2 separate regions of the Homo sapiens genome follow, and region 2 is linked to region 1. The links come from fine-mapping of genetic effects on gene expression. Tissue or cell type: whole blood. Region 1 holds a variant in brackets; the other region holds the start of a gene. Each region is shown on its reference strand, or each on the opposite one. Region 1 overlaps BANP (BTG3 associated nuclear protein). Region 2 holds the start of FZD6 (frizzled class receptor 6).

Evidence for each region. PIP is the estimated chance that this variant, and not a neighbour inherited with it, causes the effect.
Region 2: it holds the start of FZD6, and the variant in region 1 is the best candidate, but not a certain one, in a credible set for the expression of FZD6 in whole blood (TOPMed, PIP 0.67).

Annotation. Positions count from the first base shown.
Region 1 is chr16:87,959,033-87,962,054 of GRCh38, forward strand. All of the region lies in intron 1 of BANP (BTG3 associated nuclear protein), which reads left to right. Among named protein-coding and RNA genes, the nearest start is that of BANP, 9.1 kb to the left of the region's middle. The variant G/T (reference allele first, on the strand shown) is at 1,337.
Region 2 is chr8:103,297,465-103,300,196 of GRCh38, forward strand. FZD6 (frizzled class receptor 6) reads left to right here and starts at 1,434. Exons shown (of 7, transcript NM_003506.4): 1 at 1,434-1,531; 2 at 2,492-2,732. The coding sequence starts at 2,644. LOC105369147 (a long non-coding RNA gene) reads right to left here and starts at 1,354. Exons shown (of 2, transcript NR_148216.1): 1 at 885-1,354. RefSeq lists enhancers at 1,010-1,510, 1,511-2,011, 1,865-1,914 and silencers at 1,115-1,164, 1,175-1,344, 1,465-1,714, 1,577-1,871.

The DNA.
Region 1 (3,022 bases):
TGACACCGTGCATGCCCACAGGGGTGGAGATCTTTGTGGAGTTCACTGATGGATCCCAGAGGCCCAGGACGGGATGGCACGCTTTTCTGTGAGGGTCAGAGTGTAAGTGTTTCTGGCCTTGTGGGGCGTGGGATGTCTCGTGCCACTGTGAAGCCGCTCGACTCTGCTGTTGGGCTGAGAAGCAGGCACCTTGTTTGTGGACGCTGACATTTGAGTTTTATGTAATTTTCTCATCATGAAATATTGTTCTTTTGTTATTTTTCTGTTTTAAAATGTAAAACCCATTCCTGGCTCACAGGCTGCATAGAAGCAGGTGGAGAGCTGGGCTGGGTTGTGGGCCCTCACGTGCCACCCCCTGACCTAGAGTGTGTTTGCCCTGGGAAGGAATAAGACGAGGTTGTGTAGAGAGGCAGTGGCTGGATGGGGAGAGGCCTGGGCCCTGCACAGAGGAGCTGAGGTGTGAGGCTGCTTGCGAGGGAGGCGGCTGACCAGGCTTGGTACTAGCAGGCTCTCCGGGGAGGAGGCCCCCTGGAGGAACAGCGCTGGCGTCAGCCACAGAAGGGCTTAGCGGCCATGGTCTTCCTGCTGCAGCCCGTGTGGTTTTGGGAGGGACACATGGAGCATTGGAGGACAAAGAGACGGCCAGATCGGAGTGTGTGTGGCAGAGGGGCGATGCCACCCTTCGGAGCGATGGGTGCCAGGGTACTCGGTGAGAGCCCAGGTCCCGGGTGAGGGGGTGGGCTGAGGGGGAGTCAGAGAGGGAGGAGCCTCGGGATGCGGAAGGGCGAGAGCAGGGCGATGAGGGTGGGGCCGCAGGGAGGTGGCCGGGACTCCTGGTAGTATTCTTGGGGAGAAAGATAACAGGGAAGTGAGGAGGGTTCAGCTGTGGAAGTGCTGGGATGGCTGATCCGAGTGACCATGGCCTAGACGGGGTTTAAACCCTGGACTGAAGAAAGTGCCGGTGAGAGGTCAAGGCAGGAGATGGAGACCTGGGGGTGACAGGTGTCCCCGGCACCTCCTACCCCCACCCTGGGAGACAGTCCCAAGGGGCACCTTCACTGGGGGCTGGCCCTCATGCACACCAGCCAAACCTCCTGCCCACCTTCTGGGGGCTTCTGGAGCAGAGCAGAGGCCCCGCGGACCGTGAGGATGGCCACAGGGAGGGGAGATGCGAAACACTGGCCGTGGCAGGTGCCCACGCAGTCAGGAGCTTGCTTGTGGGGCTCTTGTCTGACACCTGGGAGATGAATTTCAGTCTGATGGTGGATCTGGACCCAGATGGCTTGCTTGGGATTCAGCAGCTCTTGGGAAGAGCCACACTTGAGGATGGGCTTGG[G/T]TGAGGGTTTGGAACGTGCTTAAAGAGGTTGGCAGGCAAGGATTTGGTGGTAGCAGGTGGGGCACATCGTGTATTGGCAGGGTTTTGTTATTTTTATCCTAAAGACATACTTATTTGCAAACCTTCTATTTTGGAACATTTTGAGATGTATACATATGTGGCAGAGATAGCATAGGGAGTGCCCTTGTGCCTGGTACCCAGTTTCTCCCGTTGCTAACAAGACGCATGACAGCAGTTCATGGCACAGTGTTGGGTGTGCCCCGGCCAACTCAGCAGATGAGCTGTTTCACAAAATCAGTGATTCTGCTCTGATAAAATGGCAAGTCCACGGAAAGCACTTTCATTGTATTTTGAAGTTGGGTGGTTGTTGAGGGATTATTTGAGTTGTAGTTGAACTAGCTGCTCTTTTCATGGAACACTATAAAAAAATAATTTACAGATTACTGACATCTCTTACTAAATGAGTGAAGTTAGCCTCTCACCTCAAAGAAGTCAGCTAACAGTGTTTGTTGCCAGTGATAAAGTTTGAGCTGTCAAGTGAAGTTGGAGTTTTGGAAAGTTTGTCTTTGCCACCGTGAGCCCGAGAGCTCCCAATAAATCAGATGCCAGTGCTAATGCTGATGAACCGTATGCTTTTGATATTATAGACTGAACAACATTTGCAAGAGCTGCCTAACTCGGTGAAGCAACATTTTCCAGATGGTCGATGCGGGATCACGCCTGGGTAAAAGATCCATTTAGAGTACAAGTCAAGCCAATGGATCTTAAAGCCATAAAGTGCAGAAGCTCATGGATACAGTTCACATTCCATATTGCAAACAGCCTTTAAGGAAAAATAAAACACACTTGTTGCGTGTTGGTGTGGTGTCAAAGAGGAATCTCCATAATTATCTGAAGAGCCTATTAAGATACTTTTCCCTTGTCTAACTGCATCTCCTTGTAAGGCTGCATTTTATTTTATTTTTTCGTACTTTTTGTAGAGACAGGGTTTTGCTGTGTTGCCCGGGTTGGTCTCGAACTCCTGGACTCACAGAATCTGCACCCCCCCGGGCCTCCCAAAGTGCTGGGATTACGGGCGTGAGCCACTTCCCCTGGTGAGGCTGCCTTTTTGTCATATGCATCGACCAAAACAACATATCGGAGCAGACCACCGGTGGAAGCAGATAGGAAACTCTAGTTGTTTTCAATTAAGCCGGGCATTAGAAATTTGTAAAAATGTAAAACAATATTATCCCTCTTCTCATTAAGGTTTTGTTGTTCTTTGGAAGCTATAGTTATTTTTCATAAAACATGTTTTGTATGTACCATGAATGTTTGTCCCCTTTGAAACTCATGTTGAAAGCTGGTCCCCAGTGTCACAGTATTAAGAGGTGATTGGATCATGAGGGCTCAGCCCTCAGGAATGCGTTCAGTGCATTTATAGACTAATGGGCTCTCCTCGTGGTGGGTTAGTGATCATGACAGGGCGTCTGTTATAAAAGCCAGTTTGGGTGTCTCTCATATCCCCACCAGCAGGAAGGCACTCCTCAGATGGGACCCCTGGACCTTGGACTTCTCAGCCTCCTGAACTATAAGAAATGCATTTCTTAGGCTGGGCGCAGTGGCTCATTCCTGTAATCCCAGCACTTTGGGAGGATGAGGTGGGTGGATTACCTGAGATCTGGAGTTCAAGACCAGCCTGCCAAC
Region 2 (2,732 bases), not on the chromosome of region 1:
TATTTACTTCTGTATAAATCAACTTACTACAATTTTTCCTTCCAAATAATGGAACAAGTATTCACTTGAATTTCAAAACTATCGTTTTCAAATGATACTTTAAAAGTATCGTTTTCAAACGATATTTTAAAAAGTATCGTTTTTAAATGATACTTTTAGTGATACTTCACTGCCTGGTAGTCACTAGAGCCTGATCACAAAAAGATCTCATTAAGTTCGTAGAAACTGGAGAGAAATAGTCTTCCAATGTAGAAAATTAGAAATTTAGGGGAAAATATTCTTCCTACATAGAAATTTATTCTGCAATACATCAACTATCCAGCTCTTAATGATGTTAATATTTCTTCATCACTACCTGTCTCCCAACATCAGTAAGCTTTTGATAAAACTGGGGAGGAATTCCCCACTCCAAATTCGTCTTTCCCCACAGATTCCAAAACTCTTACTCTGGTTGTTCAGGGTTGTCCTTCTAGGTATGGAAATATGACATTCCTTTTCTGCAACAGGATGATTTATCTGACAAGAATAGCCTCCATCTACAAGTTACTTTGCATTTTTCAAAGTACTTCTACAAGTTCATTTGCTTCTCATACTATTCTGCCTGTTTCATAGGAGGGCCTTACAGGTTAGGTGTAAACACTTGTAACGAACTTGGCACTATTTGACTTACAGCCAGTGCTCAATTAACGTTAACCATCATTACAACTATTGTCATTCCTATATTGTGAGGAAACTATGCCCCTTAAAGATTAGGGTAATTTATCTAATATCTATGACAGAGTTGGTACCCCAAACTAGGTTGATTTCTACAGCAGTTCAACTTCCTATTAGGGTTTGTATCAATAAAACTGTGGGACCCGCCAGGGCTGGAATCCCACTGCTACCTGAGCATCCAGTTGGTGACCAGGCTCCCCGAATTAATAAAAGTATTTGTTGTTGTTTTTATAGCAGTTGTCCAGGAAGTATCTCCTTTCGAACTCAAGTCACTTGGGCAATTGGCTTTACAAAGCAAATTGGCTCCGTTTAAGGATTCTTGACTCCTGAAATCCGCAAGGAAGTGGGTTCTTTTAGAGCCAGCGCCAAGAGCTTCAAAAAATCCTTCTAAGGTGAACCCCTCCGGACCCGGATAGCGAGATGGGGCTCAGCCTTGCGCCTCGGGGGTCGTAACAGACGGCAAGGTGGAGGTGGCTTCCCGGCCCCGCAGCCGGACCTCGGCACCCCGAGCCCGTTCACCGGGGCCGGGTCCTGGCGGGCCGCGGAGTGAGGCCGGGCGGCGCAGCGCAGGCGGTGCCCGGGCGCAGGGCCAGTCCCGCCGCCGCCGCCGCCGCCGCCGCCGCCGCCGCCGCGAGCCCGGACCTGCCCGCCCGACCTGGCGGCGCAGTCTCGCGGGATCGCTCAGCTCTCGCTCCCCGTGCGGCTCTCGAGGCAGCTCCAGTCCCGGACGCAACCCCGGAGCCGTCTCAGGTCCCTGGGGGGAACGGTGGGTTAGACGGGGACGGGAAGGGACAGCGGCCTTCGACCGCCCCCCGAGGTGAGGCTTCCACGGCTGGGACTGGGCAGGGGCCGGGCGGGTGCCGGGGGAAGCGGGGAGGGCCTCGAGGGGCGAGGGGCCGCGGCTGGGATGAGGCGCGCCGGGAGCCGCAGGTGCTGGGGAGGCAACGGCGGGACGGCCCGCACCTGAGTTTCCTCGGAAGCGGGAACCGGCTCTGAAAGGCGATGCCGGGGCCCCGCGGCGCCGCGCAGGCCAGGAACGCTGCTGTCTGGCTCTAGGCCTGGGGCAGGTTCCCGGGTGTGGGGCGCTGGCGGACCGGGCATCAGTGTGTGTTGGGGCGCGGGTAATTCGTAATCCGGGGCCTACAGCCTTCCTCCCGCAAGGGGACTGCCTTCGCCCTTCCCCCGGGACAGATTTGCGCACTTTCCTTTCGACGGCAGCACTACACCCTCCTAGCCAGTGAAAACTGCAATGTTGCTCCTCCACTGGAGGAATCCTAAAAGTCTCCCTCTAGTTGGCCTTACGAAAATCGAGAAAACTACATACCCAGAAGACTGCCACAAAAACTGACTCTTCAGAGTCTTTTACAAGTTTAAGAACTCTTTGGGTCTTAAGGAATTTCCCAGGGCCTTAGTTTTCTTGTACTTAATAAGCTTTCCAACAGGGGCCCTTAGATTGTATGCTTATATTAATCCTTTATAATTTACTCCGAATCACCAGCTTTCCTTTTTTCCTCCATCTTACTCTTGCCATTCCCTCTTTTTAACCCTGTCTTCCATACAGCACCAACCTCCTAGCATCGGTTTCCTAGAGGTGCAGCTTCCTTAGCAAATGATATATTCCATGCTAAGGCAGGTGGAAGAGTATCTCGTTAGGACAGAATTTTCCGTTGTTTTTCCAGTGTTTGTTACCTGGGGTGAAAATCTTAACTCTGCACTTTGACTCCACATTTGAGTTTATGACAAATGTTGCTGATACACCCTCCTTTTGTTTTTACAGTAATTGACCCAGGACTCATTTTCAGGAAAGCCTGAAAATGAGTAAAATAGTGAAATGAGGAATTTGAACATTTTATCTTTGGATGGGGATCTTCTGAGGATGCAAAGAGTGATTCATCCAAGCCATGTGGTAAAATCAGGAATTTGAAGAAAATGGAAATGTTTACATTTTTGTTGACGTGTATTTTTCTACCCCTCCTAAGAGGGCACAGTCTCTTCACCTGTGAACCAATTACTGTTCC